Homo sapiens: one gene and its partners. The protein of the gene in region 2 interacts with the protein of the main gene of each other region in a pairwise test. Each region holds a gene or a part of one and is shown on either strand. Other genes may lie near its edges.

Region 1 (7,317 bases), on a different chromosome or scaffold from region 2:
CTCAGTGCTTCTCCCTCTGGGCACATATATCCCAGAAGGCTACATGTAGTAGCCAAGACATTCCCAATGTGTCCTACGTGTCACGCCCCTGCCTTTAAAAGGTTAGCCAACCAGGTGACCTTCTAAGGTACCTTTTTGGTTTTAGAGATGGGGTCTCACTCTTTTGCCCAGGTTGGACTCGAACTCCTGGGCTCAAGCAATCCTCTTGCCGCAGCCTCCCGGGTAGCTGGGACTAAAGGCACGTGCCACCACACCCAGTTTGAAGTTCGTTTTGGGGCTTAGTAACATACATGTTGGGATCAGTCACTCACAGACAATGCTCTATGGAAATTCTACCAAAATGCTTCCTGGAGGAGGAAAGACTCATCTCTTGCCACTTTTCTGGAATGCGTCCATGGACGTCAGAGTGTTCCGGGGTTCTAATTTGTTCACAGTTCTTTTCTTCCAGAATATAAAAGATGTAATACTTTTGGGACCACTAAATTAATAAACTCTGAAATCAACTGCACCAAGACCTCTAGGTTTGTTTTTAATAGACTAAATTTAAATGGCAATTTTAAAAACTGAAAAGCTTTCCTCATATTTCTAGAGTCAACACTGGAGGTTGACAATTAAAGGTGAGACAACAGGAAACCACACGCCCCATCACAGGTACAACCTGTGGCTCTTAGTATTGACCTTCAGTTGATGTGACTGTTAATATATTACAAGACTATGCAGCAGCGCTGTAAACACGTGCCCATCAAAGACCCTTGCTTGGGTAAGAAAGGCATGAAAGGGACTCTCACGACACCTTAATGTCTGGCCAAACACTGGGATGTTTCAATGATGAACCTGAGCAGGCACTGCTGAGCCATCTGACAGTGCCCCGGGCACTTACTGTTAACAGAGCCCTGTAAAACTGCCTGGCGGCTGGGATCAGAAGCCTCAGCATCCCTTGTTCTCTGTACTTATGGTACCCATGAAGTCAGTTCCAAGCAATTTTTGGATGTCCGTAAGGCTGAGAAAAGAAAGAAAACATAAGAGTGATCAGATCAGCAGTATCTGCAGCATGAGGAATTAACCTTGTTTTAACTACAAGCTAAAAGAACAATATAAATGGCTGTTTCATTTCCAGCTGAAAAAATCTGACCCTAAGCCATAAATGAGGCACTTGATATCTTTTTGGTTTTGAGTACTAGCCCTAAGAAACACTTTCACATATGATCTGTGAAACCCTGACCCTGACACTCTCACTGATCCACGGCCAAGTGGGTTTAGGAAATGCTGTTCCCTGTGACTGTGACAGTCAGTGTTTGAGGGCGAGTGGCCTATGGCAAACGCAGCACCTGCTCTAATTATGTTTCACTCAGTTTCCCAGTGTCATCTGACCACAAGGGAGCCAGCCCTCATTCTGCAGCATGTGTCCTGGGGAATGCACTCTAGGCACCGGGTGGCCAGGGTGGCCCTAGGTAAAGGAGGGCAGAGGGGACAAGCCAGCAGTGGAGGTGCTTCAGTCATCAGCTTCCTCAGGGCAGGGAAGGCAGCATTTGCTTCTCTGTGCTCCCCATGGTGCTGTGCAGACAGGTCCGGGAACAAAGACACTGAGAGGCAGAGAAACAGATACACACACGGGAGGGAGGGGAGGAAGAGGACACCCACAGGAGGGAGGGAGGGGAGGTGAGGAGGAGGACTGGTCTCTTGTTCATCGGGCTTCACTGTCTCAACAGTTGAGGCCTAGATCTACTGCTCTGACCCCTCTCAGCAGCTGTGGCCACAGCTCTTCTTAGATTGACCAAAGAGGGTGGACAGGCATGCAGCTTAGTAGGCAAGGCCAGAGCAAAATCACTTCAAGGTTTGAGGCCCAACCAAGGACTGGAACAGCCCCTGTGTCAGGGCTCCCTGCTGGTCAGGGAAGAGAGAAATACAAGAGAAGAGAAACAAGGAATAACCCGGACGGCCGGAGAGCAGACCCCGGCGCGGGGCGATGAGCAGGCCCAGGGGAGCAGGGGCCGGGCAGAGTCTGTCTTGCCGGTGTTGGCCTATATCCTGGCAGACTTCCTACCTTAGGCCGGTAGCCCTGCTCAGCCATAGTCTCCGCCTCCTGCTGCAGCAGGGCATCTGAGAGCTGCTCGACCCGCCGGGCCTCCTCCTCTTCCTCCTCCTCCTGCTGGTCTGCTTCCCATGCCTGCAGCCGGCGCTCTGCAACCTGAGTGCCAAGAGCAAAGTCACCACCCCAAGACAAGGCCCACAGGGCAGAGCCCTGCCTCTGATGAGGAAGGTAAGCCTGCGGCCCTACCCAGACTGGAGAATCCAGCTGAGCAACAGCAATGCACGTGCCAAGGAACGGAAGGGAGCATGCGGGACTTGAAAGGCTGTATGCATGGTGTGTACCTCATAGAAAGCTGGAGAGGCTGTATGCGTGGCGCTTACCTCGTGGAAAGCTGGAGAGGCTGTATGCGTGGCGTGTACCTCGTGGAAAGCTGGAGAGGCTGTATGCATTGTGTGTACCTGGTAGAAAGCTGGAGAGGCTGTATGCATGGCATGTACCTCGTAGAAAGCTGGAGAGGCTGTATGCGTGGCGTGTACCTCATGGAAAGCTGGAGAGGCTATACATATGCGTGGCGTGTACCTCGTGAAAAGCTCGGCCTGTGGCCAGGTGTTTGGAGGACTGTTCTGTCTTATGTATCAGGGACTGAAATGAAGAGAGATCTATGGCCCCCGGTAAGCCAACTGCTTGCAGAAGCAGACAGAGTAAAGAGAACAGACAGCAGTACCGGCCTCACCCACACGACATGGAGGATGTGGAGGGAAAGAAGCCACAGTCAAGAGGATGAGGACTGCAGCTGGGATGGAAACGGGAGCACCGTGCTCTCAAACGTGCGCAAGCCCTGCCAGGCAGTCCAGCGGCTCTGAACCCTGTCCCATGATGATGCAGAGAACCTGGCAGGCCCGGTGCCTCCCGCCCTTGGGCTCAGCCCTACCTGGGCTTCCAGCTCCTGCTTCCTGGCCGATTTCAGCTTTTCACTCTCCTCTTTCTCGCGACGAGCCAACTCTCTCACCTCCTCAAGATTTCGAATAAGTTGCTCCCTGTGTTTCAGGGATTCCTCTTGTGCCCGTCGGTTCTGCTCAATCTTCTCTTGTATTTGCTGTTGTCTCCCTGTCAGAACCTAACCTCAGCAGAAAGAAAAGGGCAGCTTTGAGGTTGACCCTAACAGATCCTGGTTCTACAAGCCTTGGACAGGCTGCAGCCACAGCAAGGCCCAGCCTCATCCTTGGGCCTCAGGCCCAGGTACGCAGAGGCAGAGCCAGATGACAGGATTTGCTCTCACGATGTCGGCCACGCTTGCCAGTATACAAGAAATGTTTCCCTCGCAACCCAAGACACACAAAATGTATCCAGACTGTGTACTATGGAGAGACAGCTGAGTGCCAAAGAAATCAAAGGAGATGGGGATGGAGCTGTCTCCCCGGGGCCAGAGAAACCTTGGAGCAACAAGGTGAGTCTCCTTCCTATCAGCGGGTTCCAAAAACAAGAGAGCCACAAGCCACACAGATGACCAGAGGTGGAGCTGGGGTGGTCCTCTAACCTTTTGAACCTGCTGTGTTTGAGACCTGGCCCCAGAGCCGTGTGACATCTGAACTCCAGCCCAGGCCACAGTCAGGAGCAGAAAACCACCTGACACTCTCAACAGTTAGGCTGCAGGGCTGGGGGGAACAGAAAGTGGCCGCCATCAGGAGGGAAATTTAAATGAGGAAAATCAAAAGGCACTGGAGAATTCTTGGTATTTACAAGAGCAAAACATCACCAATCACGACCCAATTTCCTGTGGATTCCAAAATACAGCATACTACCAGACACAACGTAGAGTTTCTCATTTGAAACCACTTTACAACAGCTTTCAGCCCATGGGTAACACTCTCTCTTCTCCTCCCAGATTTCTCTGCGGTTGGGGTATATCTTCCACGCACAGTGTACACACTGACCAGGAAAGCAGTTATGTCCTCCAGGTCACGGCTGTCATCTACCCCGAGGGGGGAAACGTGTGGGAAGAGCCTCAGGCACCAAGAGGCTCTCTGCAGCGTTTCTCAGAATGGCTTCCAATTAGAACAACACAGCACACCCATAAGAGGGAATGGAAAGGCAGCGGGTGACAGAGGACAGTCCGTGATACAGCCCCTGACATGCCGTTTATAAAGATGTAACAGCATGTCACAACGCTTGAAGCCAAATAGCACAAGACAGTAAGAAATACATGTAGAAAAAATGTCAGGCATAGAAACAGAAGAGCAGACAGAAGCAGCAGCTACGGCTGCATACAGGATGGGCTCTGGGGGACTTTTTTCCATTTCTACTTCCTGTACTTCTGAATTCTTTTCTACTAAGCTCATATTACTTTTTCAATGATTTTTAAAGCCCACTTAAAATGACCAGAGAAGACTCTGTTCCCAGAGCATCTGGCAGGGTGACTGACCATGGACTTCCAGACACCTGCCCAAGACCCAACAGCCGGTCCACATCGCCGCAGCTGGGATTACCTCGCTCATCAGTCTGTCCCGTGCGCTGCGCTCTCGGGCCCACTCTGCCTCTCTCTTTTCCCACATCTCCTTGGCCTCCTCCCTGGGCAAACACAAAAGGGATGACAGCAGGCTCCTCCCCGCCCTGGCAGGAAGCGAGCTACGGAACAGACAGGGCTGCAGGGCACATGGCTTCTGCAGGACCACACTGCAGATAAACATCCACATGCACTTTGAAAAGATTACAATTAAGGACAGCATCCACGGAAAGTACTGTTGGAAGTTTTTCATTTTTTTTATTTTTGAGATGGGTCTCGCTCTGTTGCCCAGGCTAGAGTGCAGTGGTGCGATCTCGGCTCACTGCAACCTCCACCTCCCAGGTTCAATCGATTCTAGTACCTCAGTCTCCTGAGTAGCTGGGATTACAGGCATGTGCCACCATGTCTGGCCAATTACTGTATTTTTAGTAGAGACAGGGTTTCACCATGTTGGTCAGGCTGGTCTTGAACTCCTGATCTCAAGTGATCTACCTGCTTTGGCCTCCCAAAGTGCTGGGATTACAAGCGTGAGCCACCGTGCCTGGCCCTGTTGGAAGTATTTTAAGTTACCCTTTTAATACCCCATCTCCTTATAAAAAGGAATTGGGATGACTTACACCGTGGCTGTTTAACACAGAGATGAATGAAACCATCAGAACATGGAGAGGAGGGCGCTGCCTGTGCCTGAACCCTGCCACCGCATGCCTGTGTCACTGATAGCTCACCCTGGACGGAGTGACCTCTTCAAGTCTCCGGGTCTCACAAGCCACCACTTGGCTGGATGTCAGGACTCAGTAAGATGAGGCCTGTAAAGCACCCGGCACAGTGTCCAGCATGCAGTAAGTGCTCAATGTATGCTACTTATTATTTGATGATTTCAATCTACTAGTTTAGTCTTTAGGACCCAAACTCAGTTTTATAGATGTAAGCAGCATTCAACATCTCTATAATAACTTCCTTCTGGCTGGGCATAGTGGCTCACGCCTGTAATCCCAGCACTTTGGGAGGCCAACGCTGGCGGATCACAAGGTCAGGAGTTCAAGACCAGCCTGGCCAAGATGGTGAAACCCCATCTCTACTAAAAATACAAAAAGTAGCCGGGTGTGGTGGCGGGCGCCTGTAATCCCAGCTACTCGGGAGGCTGAGGCAGAGAATTACTTGAACCCAGGAGGCAGAGATTGCAGTCAGCCGAGATCATGCCACTGCACTCCAGCCTGGGTGACAGAGCAAGACTCTATCTCAAAAAAAAAAAAATAATTTCCTTCTAAACCTCTAAGATTTCAGATGAACACATCGTTACTCTAAACCTTAATGATTTCCACCTCAGATAATACAAGGGAAACACCCCCAGAGGCCAGGTCCATTATGAAGATGTGCTCCTCAGGAATGATGGACAACATACACAGCTATCTCTTCTTCTTCTTTTTTTTTTTTTTTTTTTTTTGAGACAGAGTCTCGTTCTGTCACCCAGGCTGGAGTGCAGTGGTGTAGTCATGGCTAATCGGAGCCCCAACCTCCTGGGCTCAAGTGATCCTCCCACTTAGCCTCCCGAGTAGTTGGAACTACAGGTATGAACAACCACGCCTGGCCAATTTGTGTATTTTTGGTAGAGCCTGGAGTTTTGCCATGTTGCCCAGGCTGATCTCAAATTCCTAGGCTCAAGCGATCCACCTGCCTCGGCCTCTCAAAGTGCTAGGATTACAGGTGTGAGCCTCCACGCCCAGCCAATAGATATTTCAGTAACAGGTGACCCATGGGGCATTTCAAGGTATCAGAGTTGAGGCCAGGAGCATCCAGCCCAGTCAGCAGCTGCCACTCACCTCAGCAGCATCTGCAGCTCTGCCTCCCGCGCCCGCTCCAGCTGCAGCTGCTCCTCAATGGCCTGCTTCATCCAGGCCACATCGGCCATGACCTGCTCCCGCCTGGCCAGGTGGAGGCGCTGGCTCTCGTCCTCCTTCTCGAGGAGGGCCTGCAGGATCCGCCTGTCTGCCTCCTAGAGGAAGCAGAGGGCGGCACGTGGCTGGGCTGGACAGAGTCCTTCTGCAATGAGAGCCTACAGAGGGGCCTGCCCTCCCTTTCCTTTCTACATAGACATTCGTGATTCTACACAGTGTTCTCAAGACAGAGATGGGAAGATCCTGGATTATTTCTGGAACAGACTGGGGATAATCACGAGGGGTGGTTCAGACACTGCACAGGCCTAGGAGCTTCTCTCTGGCTAAAGGGAGACCCAGCCACCACCACATGCCCTCGGATACACCTGGTTGCACAACTTTTTGGAATACAACTTGGCAAAAATCCCACTTATAAGAACAAAGACCACAGTGACACAAAAGTGCAAAACACTCGTTGCAGCTTTTAGGTAAGAGGGAAAAACCAGAAACAACCAAAATGCTCCTTGGTGGGGAATTAGCTACTATGTACATCAACATAATGGAAGCATTAAAATAATGCAGGAGGCTGGGCACTGGGGCTAATGCATGCAATCCCAGCACTTTGGGAGGCTGAGGTGGGAGGATCACTTGGGCCTAGGAGTTCAAGACCAGCCTGGGCAATGTAGCAAGACCCCATCTCTACAAAGCATTGTGATGTACACCTATGGTCCCAGCTACTCGAGAGGCTGAGGTGGGAGGATGGCTTGAGCCTGGCAGGTTGAGGCTGCAGTGAGCCGTGATTGCGCCATTGCAATCCAGCCTGGACAACAGAGCAAGACCCCATAAAAAACAGCTGCACACCAGGACCAACCATGCCACTGTGCCCCATGTCCTGCCCTGACCGCAGT
Region 2 (7,573 bases):
GCCAAAAATGTAGCATTTTAATAAAATATCCAGCAAAAATGTAAACAAATCAAGATCACAGCAGAGAGAAAGCAACATGTATTTTATGATTATTTGAATGGAGCAAAACATCTGAACACACTGTGAAATCAGGAACTATGATTTTTTTTTTTCAAATTTAGGATATGGTTTGGTAGTAGGTGGGAGGGATATGTCACCAAGGAGGAGGTATAAGTTCCCTCTCCGGTGGGAAGTTCAAGAGTGTGGGCAGTCTTCTTTTTTAAGCTAGGTGGTGGATATATGGGTATTCACTGTATTGTTCTCTTACCCCATTCTGTATATCTTAAATATTGCATGTTTTAGGCCGGGTGTGGTGGCCCATGCCTGTAATCCCAGCACTTTGGGAGGCCAAGGCAGGTGGATCATCTGAGGACAGGAGTTCGAGACCAGCCTGGCTAACACAGTGAAACCCCATCTCTACCAAAAATACAAAAATTAGCCAGGCGTGGTGGCAGGCGCCTGTAATCCCAGCTACTCGGGAGGCGGTTCTCATTCTCAAAAAAGTTTGTGTTAAAAAATAAAATGCTGCATCTAATTGCAAGTGCTTTTTTACCAGTATGTGATTGGCATAACAGCAACACATCGAAGTGTCAAAAGTGTAACTCTCCTGCCAAGTGAATTACCTCAATTTCCTGTAACTGCTCCTGATTGGTTGTATACATCTGCTGAACAGAGTCCTCCAACTCTGTGTTCCGATCCAGTAATGTCTTCCCAAGCTCAGCAGCAAGTTGAAGATCTAGCACAACAAATGAATCTTAGAATAATACAAATGATCTCACATCAACAATTTATATAACCCAGTCCTTCAAAAAAGAACATGTAGTTTAAGTCACATCCCAATGGAAGGTGGAGTGGCACAGAAGGAAACCCGAGTTCTACTTAAAATTCAGTTAAACTGACGCCTCCAGCAGGTAATGTATTCTCTTATGTACCCATACTTGTAAGAAGTGAAAAATGGTCATCTACTTTATGGAGATGCAGTTATTTGTTCAGGAATGATCATTCCGCAGTGTTACTTCTAAAATCCTATTTGCTAGTACAATGAATGTATTCATATCCTGACAGTCTACTTTTTTGAATGGACCCTTGAGCCAAGGTATAGGTGGAGCTTTCAAAAATCTTTAAAGTTCCCATGAATTTGCCTGCTGTGAATACAACTGTTAAAGTTTATTGTCATATATCCTGGACTCCTAAGGGGACTAAAATTTATTAAGTCAAGAAAAGGAAAAATACATCAGCATTAAGAACACTGCCCCAGGTCACTCTACTTCTCTTCGTGTCCTTCTGTAAGATGAGCAACTAGAAAAGCAAAACAGAAATGTGGTTTTTGAGGTAATTACATGTCAGTAGCTCATACTTCCATTTAGCACAGAACCATATTTTATTTTAAACCTCATTTTTCAACTCTCTCTATTCTTAGGTATAATGCCCATAAAACAGGATTTGTTTATATTATACTCAACTCCCAGAAATGAAAATTTAGTTAACAATATAAGAAAGGACACTAGTTGTAACATACGTCATTGAAATACTTCTTTGCATAGTAAATCTTATGGAGCAGTCCTTTGATACAGTGGGAAATGCACTGCACTCTGGGCAGGTAAGTCTCAGGCCCAGTTCTATCATTTACCAGAACACTTTCAATATGGTGACTTTAAGGCCCCTATAGTTAGTATTCTTGTTTAGAGAGATGACTGTCTTATCAATATAAGATTGTGAAAATCAAATGAAATAATACATAAAGGAGTACTTTACAAACTAAGTTGCAATACGCACGCAAAGTACTATTAATAGTCATTGATTCACAAATGAATGTTTTTGTTGCCAGGCACTATGCTAAGCATTAGCTATAGAACAGTGAATAAAATGAAGTCCTGCTTTGCTGACATTCCCAGATTAGTGGAGGAAGCCAGACAAATGAGTAACTAAACTCACATACTGTGATAAACAGTATTCATGCATGCATGCATATACTCAATAATATCAGACACTATTCTAGGCACTGGGATGGTGCCCAGGAGCCATAAGGAACTCACATTAAAAAAATATCCCTGCCCTCATGGAGCTTATATTCTACTGGGAGAAACAGCACAATAAAACTTGATAGCGATAAATGCTAAAGAGAAAAAAATAAAGCAAGGAAGAAGTACAGGAGGAGTGTGGATGTGGGAGGCTGAAATTTAAGAACATGTGACCAGGGCCACATTAGAATCAATGTGTGAAGGAACAGAATAAGTGACCCATGTGTATCCATCAGGGAAACAGCACTCCAGGCAGAGGCAAGGCAAGTGCAAAGCACCTGGGAGGAAGCATGACTGAGTCATTAAGGAGGCTGAGGAGGGTGGAGCAGAATGTATTGGGCAGGGAGGGGAGGGGGAAGACTCAAATCAGAGGGGCTCCAAGATGGCCAGTTTGCGGAGGGCCTAACTAAAGAGGTCAAGAGTTTGGCCTTTACTCCAAATGAAGGAATCCAATGGAGGTTTAACAGGATCACTCCGGCTGCTGTTATACAGGGTGAATGGGACAAAGGTGGGAGCAGAGTGACAGAAAGATACTGCAATCGTCTGGGTGAGAGATGATGGTGGCTTGGACCAGGGTGGCAGAGATGAAGATGGGAGAGGAGGGGCAGAATTCTGACATGTTTTGAAAGTAAAGCTAAAGGATTTGTTGACCAATTCAATATAAAGTCTAAAAGATAAAGCGGGGGAGAAAAACCTGGATTTGGTGATAATGAACAAAGGGCTTTCTTTTTCTGTCTCTTTATTAGGCACGGTCTCGCTCTGTTGCCATGCTGGAGTGCAGTGGTGCACTCATGGCTGACTGTAGCCTTGGATTCCTGGGCTCAAGTGATCTTCCTGCCTCAGCCTGCCAAACAGCTGGGACTACAGGCATGCACTACCAAACCCAGCTTACTTACTTACTGATTTATTGTAGAGACAGGGTCTTACAATGCTGCCCAGGATGATCTCAAACTTCTGGCCTCAACACATCCTCCCACATCAGCCTCCCAAAATGTTGGGATTACAGGCATGAGCCACTGTGCCCAGCCTAGGGCCCAATTTAGAAAGGGAGGTCATAAGGAAGGTCTGACAAGACCTTTTAGCTGAAGCTTGAAGGATGAAGAACTTGCCATGAATTTGGCATATTCTACAACCTGACAAGCAGCCAGTATGATAGAAGCATGAGGGATCAGATCATATAGGATTTTATAGCCCATGGTAGGTAAAGTTTAAATTTTATTCTAGGTATGATGGAAAGTAGCCTCAGTTATTGTCATAAAAGTATTATGAAAAAAATTTATCATAAAAACAAGGAAACTCACTACATAATGATTTTTAAACTTAATTTTTAGAGGTTGACAAATAAGGCTTAATGGCTATCCACCACTACTCATAGTAAAACTTAGCATTGAGTAAATGGTAACAACAGCATTAGTTGTTGTAATGTCCACTCAAGTGCATAATTAGTATTCTACTTGGTTAGTTTTCACTCTGGAAAAAGCAGCAAAACCTACCACACCCAACTCCAGATCATTTAAAAACATTTTACACCCATTTAAAATAAAACAGTATACTGTTGGTAGATAGGTGCTAAAATACATTCTCTTGTGATTTCAAAACTAACAATGTCTATTAGTCATTACATTCATTAAGACTTTAGAGGCCAGGTGCAGTGGGTCATGCCTATAATCCCAGCATTTTGGGAGGGTGAACCAGATGGACTGCTTGAGCTCAGAAGTTCGAGACCAGCCAGGGCAACATGGTGAAATTACATCTCTACCAAAAATACAGTGAGGCCCTGTCTCAAAAATAAAAAAATAAAAAATAAAGACTTCCATTAAATCTATGAAATAACTTGTATTTACAAAACACAGAACTTTTACAAATAGCTCAAAGCATTTAAGAGACATTAGTCTTTTTCTTGTCATTATTTATTTATTTTTTTTGAGATGGAGTCTCTCACTCTTGTCACCCAGGCTGGAGGGCAGTGGTGCGATCTCGGCTCACTGCAACCTCTGCCTCCTGGATTCAAGTGATTCTCCTGCCTCAGCCTCCTGAGTAGCTGGGATTACAGGCACCCACCACCACACCTGGCTAATTTTTGTATTGTTAGTAGAGATGGGGTTTCACTATGCTGGCCAGGCTGGTCTCGAAATCCTGACCTCAAGTGATCCGCCCACCGCGGCCTCCCCAAGTGCTGGGGATTATAGGCATGAGCCACTGCCCCCAGCCTACTTTTTGTTTTCTAGAGACATTAGTCTTTATATCTTTAAAGGTATTTAGTCCAGTTTCTCAGATGAGACAGCCTGAAGCACAAAACTGTTAATTGACCTAATCAAGCTCCAAGGTGAGTCACAGATCAAACAGAAACTCTTAGGTCAACAGGTTCTCACTCTCACTCTCATCACGATTCTTTGTTATCTTCATCTGCAGAGTTTTAAGGCAATTGAAAGAGAGGTCCGCAGGCTTCTTTAAGGTAGAGAATACAAATGTTCCCCTTGTTGAGGTACTTAATTTCTTCTACTTGTTTTCACAGATTGCAATGAGAAATTAGAGTTCAACTATTTGGGTTTTTATTGCCTGCTCTGCTAGTGAAAGCACATACAACCCCAGGCAAGTTAATACCCTGTTTTCACCAAATGAAAAAGGAACTATGTATGGCTCAACATGTTCCAGAAAAAATGATTTTGTACTCACAGAGTGTGTAATGTGTATACATAGACCCATATGGAAGCTACCACACTGTATTAAAGACAAAGTATAAAAACATTACCTAGGTATTACTTAAGTCTTTCCTTCTTAAATGTGTGAAGTGGTAATTCCTCACTGGGAAGGCTCAGATTCACCAAAGATGCTCTTAACCAGCAATCAAAGCCTGAGCCAAGGACCGGGTGTGGTGGCTCACACCTGTAATCTCAGCACTTTGGGACGCCAAGGCAGGAGGACTGTTTGAGGCCAAGAGTTCGAGACCAGCATGGGCAACATAGCAAGACCTTGTCTCTTAGCAGGAAAAAAAAAAAAAAGAAAAAAAACAAAACCCAACTGGGCTGAAACCTCTCCCAGAATCCAGACTGTCTTGAGACTATCACCACTTTCATTCAGTTATGGAACTACCTGTGCTACTTAAGAGTAGCCAGGAACCTCTTCCCTGCTCCTGCAGAAAGAGATACCAAGGACAGCACTCTTTAGTAGATAGCAAACAAAAAAGAATTTGAGACTTGTCCTTATCTCAAACCTTATTTCCAGTAAAACAAAGCACCAGCCTGGCTCAGAAACCTGAAGTCTCGATCTCCTAAATATTTATAGGCTGTTAAGGATAGAATTTTAACAAGTCCCAACTACAAGAAAGCTCCTGTGAAGTCACACTGTATAACAGGATATTACTTCATCTGTTAGCTTAAAGACACCGGACTTTGTCTTTAAAAAAAGTTCATTTCCTGTTGAGTAGCAGCTGGCTTCCATAACCAAAAGAGGCCAAAAGCTGGCAGTAAGCCCAAGAAAGTTTTCTAAATAATTAGTGGAGGGAATAGAATATTGAATGTCCCTTATAGTTTTAATTAAGGCACAAAAGAAAAGGAAATAATATAGTTTCGAAGCCTTATACACCTGTTCATCTCTACAGGATTACAAAATGAATTTTCATTAAGAGGGTCTTCTCTAAATCCTATTGAACTGGCCTGGTTTAGGCAACTACTAAAAATACTGTAGATTTATTGCAGGCTTGAGAATTTCAACATATCAATACCTTCATATGTTGAATATTCTTTCACTAATGAGTCTTTGCAGGTAATAATATATTTTTAATGGTGTAAACTGTTAGCTTTAAACAGATACTCAGCTCTATGCTTTAGGCAAAAAATTAGTACTGGCAGCTGTAGTCTGTAGGAGTAATTCACTAACAGTAAGGCTGAAAGTTTTTCCTATTACAAAGTCAAATGCGTCATTTAGTGATGCTTCTGTTTAACTCCTGTTGCCAATGTTACTATAATTGGGAAAGCAGAAAACCTGAATATAAATATCAAGAAAAATGATGTTGTCAGTTTTAATAACCCTCCAAACAGTGATTCAGCAAAATAGTTGTACACAAGGAGGATGTACTCATCCTGCAATTTTAGGATTCCTTTAAACTAAGAGTTCATTTACTGATCCACATAACAGAAACCTGAATCCTTATTCTAAGTTTGCACAGCTCACCAAATGACAATAGCAGCTGGTTTAAAAGAAAATCCAGTCTCTGAAGTCTTTCCACCTTGTTCTCAGGGGCATGTTTCAAAGCAAGCACCATCATTACCTGCACTGAAGGCTCCTGCTGTCCCAGAAAAGATCTTACCCACAGAGATTATTGTCAGTATTCCTACTGAGCCAACTCAGCTCTCTGACAAAAGACAGTCTCTTCATCAAAGAGTTTTGTAACAGCAAAGGGTTTTCTCCTCCTGCCTACACAAAAGCTTTACATGTTTCTAACAAGGTATGAATAGTAGACCAGAGTTTACTGAGGTTAGAAATTTCCAGCAATTTCAATTTAAAAACGGATACCCTAGGAAACTTTGATACAAAGATTCAATCTATTCAGAGCATGGCTTACTACTGCTAAAGGAAAACATTCTATAGTTGTAAGATACTGAGAACAGGATCATTAAAAGTTGTTTTCCAGCCAGGTGCGGTGGTTCACGCCTGTAATCCCAGCACTTTGGGAGGCCGAGGCGGGTAAATCACGAGGTCAGGAGATTGAGACCATCCTGGCTAACATGGGGAAACCCCGTCTCTACTAAAAATACAAAAATTAGCTGGGTGTGGTGGCACGTGTCTGTAATCCCAGCTACTTGGGAGGCTGAGGCAGGAAAATGGCTTGAACGCGGGAGGCGGAGATTGCAGTGAGCCAAGAGCGTGCCACTGCACTCCAGCCTGGGGACAGAGCGAGACTCCACCTCAAAAAAAAAAAAAAAGTTTTAAGCAGTTCTCTCCAAATAAGCCTTGCTCAGTAATAATAATGAGGATGTTAAAAAACGGACAGATGCCTGCACATAAAATCCCACTAGACTTGCTGAATAATCTGTTTAACAGGACAGACCTGCTCCCAAACTTAATTCAGCAGCAAGTGTCTACTGAGGGCCTACAATGTACGAGGCGCTGTAGTGGGCACATCCCATGAGGCGGCACCTCCAGGCTTCTCTAGTGAACAGATTCCTGGAACATTCACTCTATGGGAGTAGGAATCCTACCTATCCACTCATGTGGGGAGGTGCTGTGGCCCCAGGGCCCAGGCGAATACCTGGCAAAGAGCAGATAATACATTTTTGAGAAATGAACAAGTTTTAAAATCTGTTAAAAGTTTAGGAGTTAACATATAACTTAGCAAAACTGGGGAAAGGATACCCTTTTATTCACACTGTAGCCTTTATTCTTTGACAGGCCATATTCACAAGTTACAATTGTTGGAATTTCACATCTTCTACTCGTACTCCATATAGTTGGTTATGACACAGAGGGTTAAGTCAAAGTCCACTGTGATAACGTAACAGCCCTTTGAAAAA
Region 3 (7,365 bases), on a different chromosome or scaffold from region 2:
GGGCTGTTGCACAGATGAATGAAAGTATATGAAACCCTTGGAGCAGTGCCTGGCCCAGAGGGAGCACCACAGGGATGTGTCAGATCTCTCATCAAAGGGATCAGGAATTCGAGACCTGGGTAATATGGTGAAATCCCGTCTCTACAAAAAATACAAAAATTAGCTGGGCGTGGCAGTGCACACTTGTAGTATCAGCTATTAGGGAGGCTGAGGTGGGAGGATGGCTTGGGCCAGGGAGGCGGAGATTGCAGTGAGCCGAGATTGTGCCACTGCACTCCAGCCTGGGTGACAGAGCAGCAAGACGCTGTTTCAAAAAAAAAAAAAAAAGGAAGACATTCAAAGAACTAGAACTAGAACTAGGGATGGTTACACGGTCAGCCTGAACTATTGGCTAAAAAAGAAAATTACCTACTAGAAGGCTTGGTAAATATTTCTTCTAAGAGAAAAGTAAAAAGGAGGAAAAATAAAGCTATGCGCTTAGGGAAATAGAGACATTACAGTAATAATTGTTCATATTTGAATATGGAAGAGGTATTACCATTAAATGTGTTACCTATTATGACACAGAAGTTACTCTTTTTTGTCCTCACATCGGACTTGGACTTCCAAAAAGTTACTTTTTAAGTAATTTCCTAATCAGTTAGATTAGAGATGCAACTATGAAGTATTCATAATTGGAAAAAACCAGTAACTTCTGGAATTTGCTTTAAAATGGCCCAGGAAAGAAAAAAATAGGGCAGGGAGAACAGACAAAATGAGACTGGGAAAATATTAATAAATGACGACATTGGATGATGGACCGTGGGCGGTGATTATGCTAAACTCTCTAATTTGGGGTATGTTTGAAAATCTCCATGAAAGTAAAATTTAAAAGTTGAACTCTAGAGAATAAAACTAACAACAGGGCCAGGCGCAGTGGCTCACGCCTGTGATCCCAGCACTTTGGGAGGCCAAGGTGGGTGGATCACGAGGTCAGGAGTTCAAGACCAGCCTGGCCAAGATGGTGAATCTCCGACTCTACTAAAAATACAAAAAATTAGCCCAGTGTGGTGGCGGGCGCCTGTAATGCCAGCTACTCTGGACGCTGAGGTAGAGAATTACTTCAACCCGGGAGACAGAGGTTGCGGTAAGCTGAGATTGCGCCACTACACTCCAGCCTGGGTGAGGAGAGTGAAACTCTGTCTCCAAAAAAAAAAGGCCAGGCGCGGTGGCTCACGCTTGTCATCCCAGCACTTTGGGAGGCCAAGGTGGGCGGATCACGAGGTCAGGAGATTGAGACCATCCTGGCTAACATGGTGAAACCCCGTCTCTACTAAAAATACAGAAAATTAGCCAGACATGGTGGCGGGCGCCTGTAGTCCCAGCTACTCGGGAGGCTGAGGCAGGAGAATGGCGTGAACCCGGGAGGCGGAGCTTGCAGTGAGCCGAGATCACGCCACTGCACTCCAGCCTGGGCAACAGAACAAGACTCCATCTCAAAAAAAAGATAAAAAATTATAGTAATATAAAAATTAGCTGGGTGTAGTAGCGTGAGTCTGTAGCCCAGCTCCTAGGGGGGCTGAGGCAGGAGGATCGGTTGAGCCCAGGAGGTCCAGGCTGCAGTGAGCCAGGACTATGCCACTGCACTCCAGCCTGGTTGACAAAGTAAGACCCTGTCTCAAAAAAAATTAAAACAACCACCAAAAAAAAACTGACGATAGGCTGGAGACCTACTCTCTTCCACATAAGCCTTGCACTGCTGCTCGGGCTGCAGTACAGTGGCTGCATCTCCACTCACTGCAAACTCGGCCTCCTGGGTTCAACCAATTCTCCTGCCTCAGCCTCCTGAGTAGCCAGGACCACAGGTGCGCGCCACCACGACCGGTTCATTTTTGTGTTTTTAAGGAGATGGGGTTTCACCATGTTGACCAGCGTGGTCTTGAACTCCTGACCTCAGGTGATCTGCCCGCCTCGGCTTCCTAAAGTGCTGGGATTACAGGCGTGAGCCACCGCGCCTGGCCTCCTTCCATGCTTCTTGATTCACCCCAGAAGGAAGACGTAGACGCCTGAACACAGACACAGCTGTCAAAGCACGCCTGCCCCAGGAAGCTGAGACAAAACTGCAAAGCAAAGGGAGGGCCGATCCTGACCCGACCCTGTGTGCGTGCCCCTTACGCCCCTAAGGTTGGCATCTGACAACAAAGGGCTTTACCTGCAGTTCTCCTTAAAGCGGCACTTTCCCTCCAGGAAGAACGGGCACGGCTTCAGAGACTTGTGAGTGGGGTACAGGTAAAGCACACGGACACCCGCCGAGCCATCCTCCGCCTCTTCCGTTCCCACCACCATGGCGTTGTGATACTCCAGAGTGCCCCAGGAGCTGTAGTAGGGCGCGCTCACCTTTGTCCCACTCAGCTCTTCCTCGTCCTCTCCCTCTTCCTCCTCCTGCCCACCTGCCGCAGATTCTGGCCCCGCCTCTGCTTTAGGAACGGTCTCTGATCCGGACCCACGGGCCGCTGCTGGTGCCTCCACCGCCTCAGTGATGGCCTCCCGGAAAGCCTGGTACTCAGCATCTTCCTGGCGGCCCGGGCGCTCTTCGTCCAGCGCGGCCAACAAGCTGCTCTTCCTGACAGACACCAGGCTGGCCTCGGTGAGCTCGATGAGCTCCTTCAGGTCCCCCTGCAGCTGGCGCAGGTCAGCCTGCTCAGACGAATCCAGGCCGGCGCCCAAGGCCAGCTCCACCTGCTGCAGCTGCGCACGGTAGGTCTGCAAGGCCGACTCCAGGCTCTCCTCGTCCATGCTGAGAGAGGGAGGCGCTGGACCAGGGCTGCAAGAAGAGAAGCCAGCTGAGCCCCGCGTCTCGGGACCGACCCCACAGCCTGAGGGCGGGCACGGGCACGGGCACGTCCCCTTTCCCTCGGGGAGACACCGGCTCAGAGGCACAGCTCCCAGCGCAGAGGTCGCAGCCCGGGTACCCCCGCTCAGGCTCCGCGCTTCCCTTCCGAGCCGCCGTGGGCTCGCCGCTAGCCGGGTCCCGCGTCACTCCGGAGCCCCTTCCCCGCGGGGCGCCCCGCCGCCTCACCCTCCGCCGAGCCCACCCGCCGCGCCCGCCGCCTTCCAGGCCGGCCGCGCCCCCCCGCCCGGCGTCTCTTCTGTCTGGCCAGGGCCGCGTCCCCGCAAACCGCGGCCACCTGGTCCCCGGCCGGGCACCTCCTCCGCGCGGTTTCCCAGCCGCAGCCACAGAGAGCCCGCCGGCCTCACCGGCTAGAGCGGCCCGGCGCCCCCTTTTCGCCCCAGCAGCCGATCGGCACTTCCTCCCGAGCGCCGCCGCTTCCGGAAGTGCTTGGCGCGCGGGGGCAGCCGGGAAGCGGAGCGCGGAGGCCGCTGGGACGCGGTTCAGCTCATTCCCTGAGGCCGGCCCGCGTCCCGTCAGGCGCCGCGCGGGGTTAGCGCGGGGTCAGCGGAGGTCAGCGGGGGTCAGCAGCAGCGGCTCCGAGGGCGCGGCGGACGCAGGTAGGCCGCAGGCTGTGCGGTGAGGCGCGAGGCCCGAGGGGCGGCCCAGGACTCGAGGTGGGACGCGGGTGTGACAGGAGCCAGCTTTGGCTGCTTGTCGGGGAGCCTCAGACCTGGCGGCGGCGGCTTGGGGCGGACGTAGCCGGGGGCCGCGACCCAGGTTCTTCCTTCGCAGTCGTTCCCTGCCAGCCGCGCGCCGCCTCCAGGTGCACTCCAGGAGCAGCCGCGCCGCTGCTCACCCGCCCTGTAGTCCGCTCCCCCCAGGGCCGTCCCCGTTTTAAGAAATGGGGTGATGGGGCGTCCCTACCCGGCGCCTGCAGGGGCTCCTGGGGAGCGCGCCGGTGGCTCGCTGCTCCCGGGTGGGGCGCGGGGCTGGCGCTCGAGGGTGCCGTGGCCCAGGCGGGGCTGCAGCGAGTGTGTTCCCCGTTCCGCGCGCGTGAAGCGTGGGAGCGAAGCCTCGGGGGAGGGCGGGAGCGCGGCTGAGCTCACTGTGAACACCCGGCTGGGTAGTCCCGCGAGCAGGGGAGGGGCCGGAACCGATGTGTATGCGGAGAGGTCGCAGTCATTGCTGTGAGCAGGACACAGTGGCGGCTGACCTGGGAGAAGTTACAGAGGGACGGGGTGGGAGAGGGACGAGGAGTCGGGAATGGCCCCCAGGCTCTCGTCCTGAGCGGTCGGCTGGACGTGGGGCGCCACTGACCACCGTGGAGAAGCCCGGGGGAGGGGAGGTGCTTTCTGGCTGCACACTGACCTATGTTGGGGTGCCCAGGGCAGGATGTACACGCTGCTGTCGGGCTTGTACAAGTACATGTTTCAGAAGGACGAGTACTGCATCCTGATCCTGGGCCTGGACAATGCTGGGAAGACGGTGAGTGCCCACGCCCTTGCGCGCACCTTTCCCACGGCCTGGCGGCGCCCCCTTCGGTTTTGTGCTGTCAGCTGCACGTTCACTACCCAGACGGAAGCCAAATTTCACCTGAGACGGCAGGATAGTCACCACCAGCCTCCTGAAGAGCAGAGTGTTGCTCTGTTTCTGTTTCTGTCTTTTAAAGAACAGACCTGAGTAAGGATATTTGGAAGCCAGTATAGCCCCTCCTTGATGTGTTTCGCCTCTGCCTCTCTCCTCAGACCTTCCTGGAGCAGTCGAAAACCCGATTTAACAAGAACTACAAGGGGATGAGTCTATCCAAAATCACCACCACCGTGGGCCTAAACAGTAAGGGTCTCAATAGCAGGCTGTGGGTTTGGGGCCTTGAGGATGCCGTGATATTCACAGTCCAGCTGGCCCGTGGCCACAGCCCTGTCGGGCCCCTCTCAAGTCTCATTTGAGTGGCACCAGCATGGTTTGCCCCATCCCCTGGGAGAGCTGGGACTGGGTGTGTCGAGGACCAAGGTCATGAGCCTTGCCTGTTTCCTCCTCTCCCCAGTCGGCACTGTGGATGTGGGAAAGGCTCGGCTCATGTTCTGGGACTTAGGAGGGCAGGAAGAGCTGCAGTCTTTGTGGGACAAGGTAAGACTCCCTGGCCAGGACCACCCCCACCCCAGCCCTCCAGTGCCACTTCTTTCCAGAGTGCCCTTTGGGCCCTTCCTCAGCAGTTTTCCTTACCCACTCTGTCCCTCGGGTTTTCTCTCTGGTCCTGTCCCAGGTTCCCGAGTGGCTCCCTGTTTTGTCCCAGCTGAACCCTTAGCTGAAGTTGCCCCAAAAGTGGTGGTAGGGGAGTTTCCCACTTGGGAGTTCCCTGCGATGGGGCCAGTGGAGAATTCCAGGGAAAGAATCACTAAATGCCAAGGCGATCAGATCAGAGCATGTATTAGGGGAACCTGTTGACAGAGTGCGGCATCCTCAGGTGACCAGTGAGAGAAGGGCGTGTTCACTGGTCATGCCTGAAGCCGGGGGGGATCTGGGTTCAGGGCTGGGGCTAGTTTCTTTCAATGTTTTGAAACCTGAACATTATGTTAACAACCTAAACATCTTACAAGTGTCTGGGAATGTTCAAACCCTGGCTTGGGTTTGAGCCTAAGGGCAACCTCGCTGGCCAAGTCAGAGAGGTCAGGGCAGTCTGTTTCTTTCTCAGTCAGGACAAGACAAAGTGTGGGGACCTGGGGACCCTGCACTCCTCCAAAGTGAGTGCCTCCTTTCGGCTCAGAGACCTTGCTGCTGACCACCACAGGACACAGAAATGGCAAAGACCAGATGTGGGGACGGCAGGATGGCTGCCTCTCCCCTGATGAGGTTCCTTCAGTTCTAGCTTAACATTTGTTCTTCCATGATCACCAGAAGACTCCTCAGGGTCTCACAGCGGCAGTCTCCTATTTTGACACAGGTTTTGGGCATTTCTGAGATCCCAGTGTGGTGCCCCTTCCCCACACCCCCAAGGCTGCAGTTTATCTCCTTCTCAGCCTGGGCCAGGCACTGAGTCCAGCACTGAGCAGGGCAGAGCCTGTGGCTTCCTCGGGCTCCCTGCCCTAGGCTGGCACAGTGGGTGTGGGGTGTCCCCAGTGCCTTGGCTGCCCTGATGCCATCTCTAGAGCTGAGTGCCCAGGTCCTGATCTCTTTTTTGATCCTAGTTCCCCTTTCCTAGGCGCCCCCAAAGTGTCCCCTCCTGCTGTGACTTCTAGCCAAGAAGACATTTCTCCCATGGCCAAGTGATCTCTGATAGATCCTGTAGGACCACTGAAGTCAGACAGGACAAGTTGAGTCAGGGCCTGTGTGTCCAGTGCGCAGCATGCTTGGGGAGTGACACAGATGATGATGATCTTGTCACAGGCCGGTGTCTCAGGCACAGATGCTGAGACAGGTCGAGGTACAGGATGCACACTGGGGGTCGGCACCAGGAAGGCAGGGAGGACGGGAGAGGAGAGGTCGACTCAGGCAGCAGGATCCACAGAGCTGTGGTTGGCCCAGCAGGGAGCCCTGGAGGAGAACTGGCTATGCTGTGCCATGTGGGGCCAGGCTGGCCGGGACTTCACACCATGGCCTGGTGGGTCCCCAGTGTGGGCTGCCCTGGGCAGGTGTGACCTGGCAGTGTGGCTCTTTGCAGCCAAAGTGGGTCCCACAGAAACCAAAATGAGACCATCTGCTGGTGCAGTGTTCTCCAACATGAAGCAAGAATACAGTGGGGCCAGAGATGCCTGCACTGGCCACAGCTGCAGCCCTATGTGGACCCACACTTCCACGTTGGAGAGGGGTTCCTCCAAGGTCCTGAGGGCCTCTCTTAAGGCGAAACTGGAAGAGGGAGACTTAAGGGGGCCACTGTAGCCCATCCTTGCTGCTGGTCTTGGGGCTGCACAGCCCTTCCTTGAGTGCCCTCCCAATTCACTACCACTTCTGCTGGGGTGCGACTTCCTGGCAGTCTGAGCCCTTCTCCAGACACCACCGTGGTGGGGCCAGTGGCTCCCTGGGTCCCCAGCTGTGGGACAGCTGTGGGATGGCAGCCCCATCTCCTGCCCACCAGGGTCTCCTAGACATGAGGTGCAAGTCATGCCCATGAGGCAGCTGTGGCTCGTCATTCAGCGTGTCTGCTGAGTATGTGCTGCTCTAGTGGCCGGGACCCCTGACCCTGCTGAGCTCAGAGCTGGGAGGATCAGCTGCAGGGACCCCCCTAGGTCACTGGGAGGGACCGGAAGGGAGGCCCCTGCTCCCACCCTGGTTTCCTGTATCCTGCATCCTTGTGCAGAGCCAGCACCACAGAAAGGGGCGTCATTGCGAATTGGCCTCGTCCTGGGGCTGGACCCTGGGTTGGTGTCCACATGTGTGGCATGTGCCAGGACCTCAGCTCCTGGGTTCTTTGCTGTAACACTAGTCTCTCAGGCTGGCTGGCACTTTGCAGTTGGGGAGCTCCCATTGCTGCTGGGGAGAAAAACTCAGACCCACAG

Evidence for each region. The genes of interacting proteins can lie anywhere in the genome.
Region 1: the proteins of CDR2 (region 2) and TCHP interact in binary tests that used the Homo sapiens proteins (3 or more experiments, as listed by UniProt).
Region 3: the proteins of CDR2 (region 2) and ZGPAT interact in binary tests that used the Homo sapiens proteins (3 or more experiments, as listed by UniProt).

What each region holds. Positions count from the first base shown.
Region 1 is NC_000012.12:109,910,274-109,917,590, reverse strand, and holds part of TCHP (trichoplein keratin filament-binding protein), read right to left. Parts: intron 6,529-7,317; coding exon 6,356-6,528; intron 4,601-6,355; coding exon 4,519-4,600; intron 3,150-4,518; coding exon 2,964-3,149; intron 2,189-2,963; coding exon 2,045-2,188; intron 1,001-2,044; coding exon 968-1,000; 3' UTR 1-967. UniProt on the Homo sapiens protein: Tumor suppressor which has the ability to inhibit cell growth and be pro-apoptotic during cell stress. Inhibits cell growth in bladder and prostate cancer cells by a down-regulation of HSPB1 by inhibiting its phosphorylation.
Region 2 is NC_000016.10:22,364,240-22,371,812, forward strand, and holds part of CDR2 (cerebellar degeneration-related protein 2), read right to left. Parts: intron 776-7,573; coding exon 663-775; intron 1-662.
Region 3 is NC_000020.11:63,703,991-63,711,355, reverse strand, and holds the start of ZGPAT (zinc finger CCCH-type with G patch domain-containing protein), read right to left. Parts: upstream 3,318-7,365; 5' UTR 3,238-3,317; exon of another isoform or gene 3,168-3,237; intron 2,804-3,167; 5' UTR 2,776-2,803; coding exon 2,192-2,775; intron 1-2,191. Other genes in the region: ARFRP1 (ADP-ribosylation factor-related protein 1), read left to right, coding at 4,265-4,357, 4,618-4,705, 4,917-4,999. UniProt on the Homo sapiens protein: Transcription repressor that specifically binds the 5'-GGAG[GA]A[GA]A-3' consensus sequence. Represses transcription by recruiting the chromatin multiprotein complex NuRD to target promoters.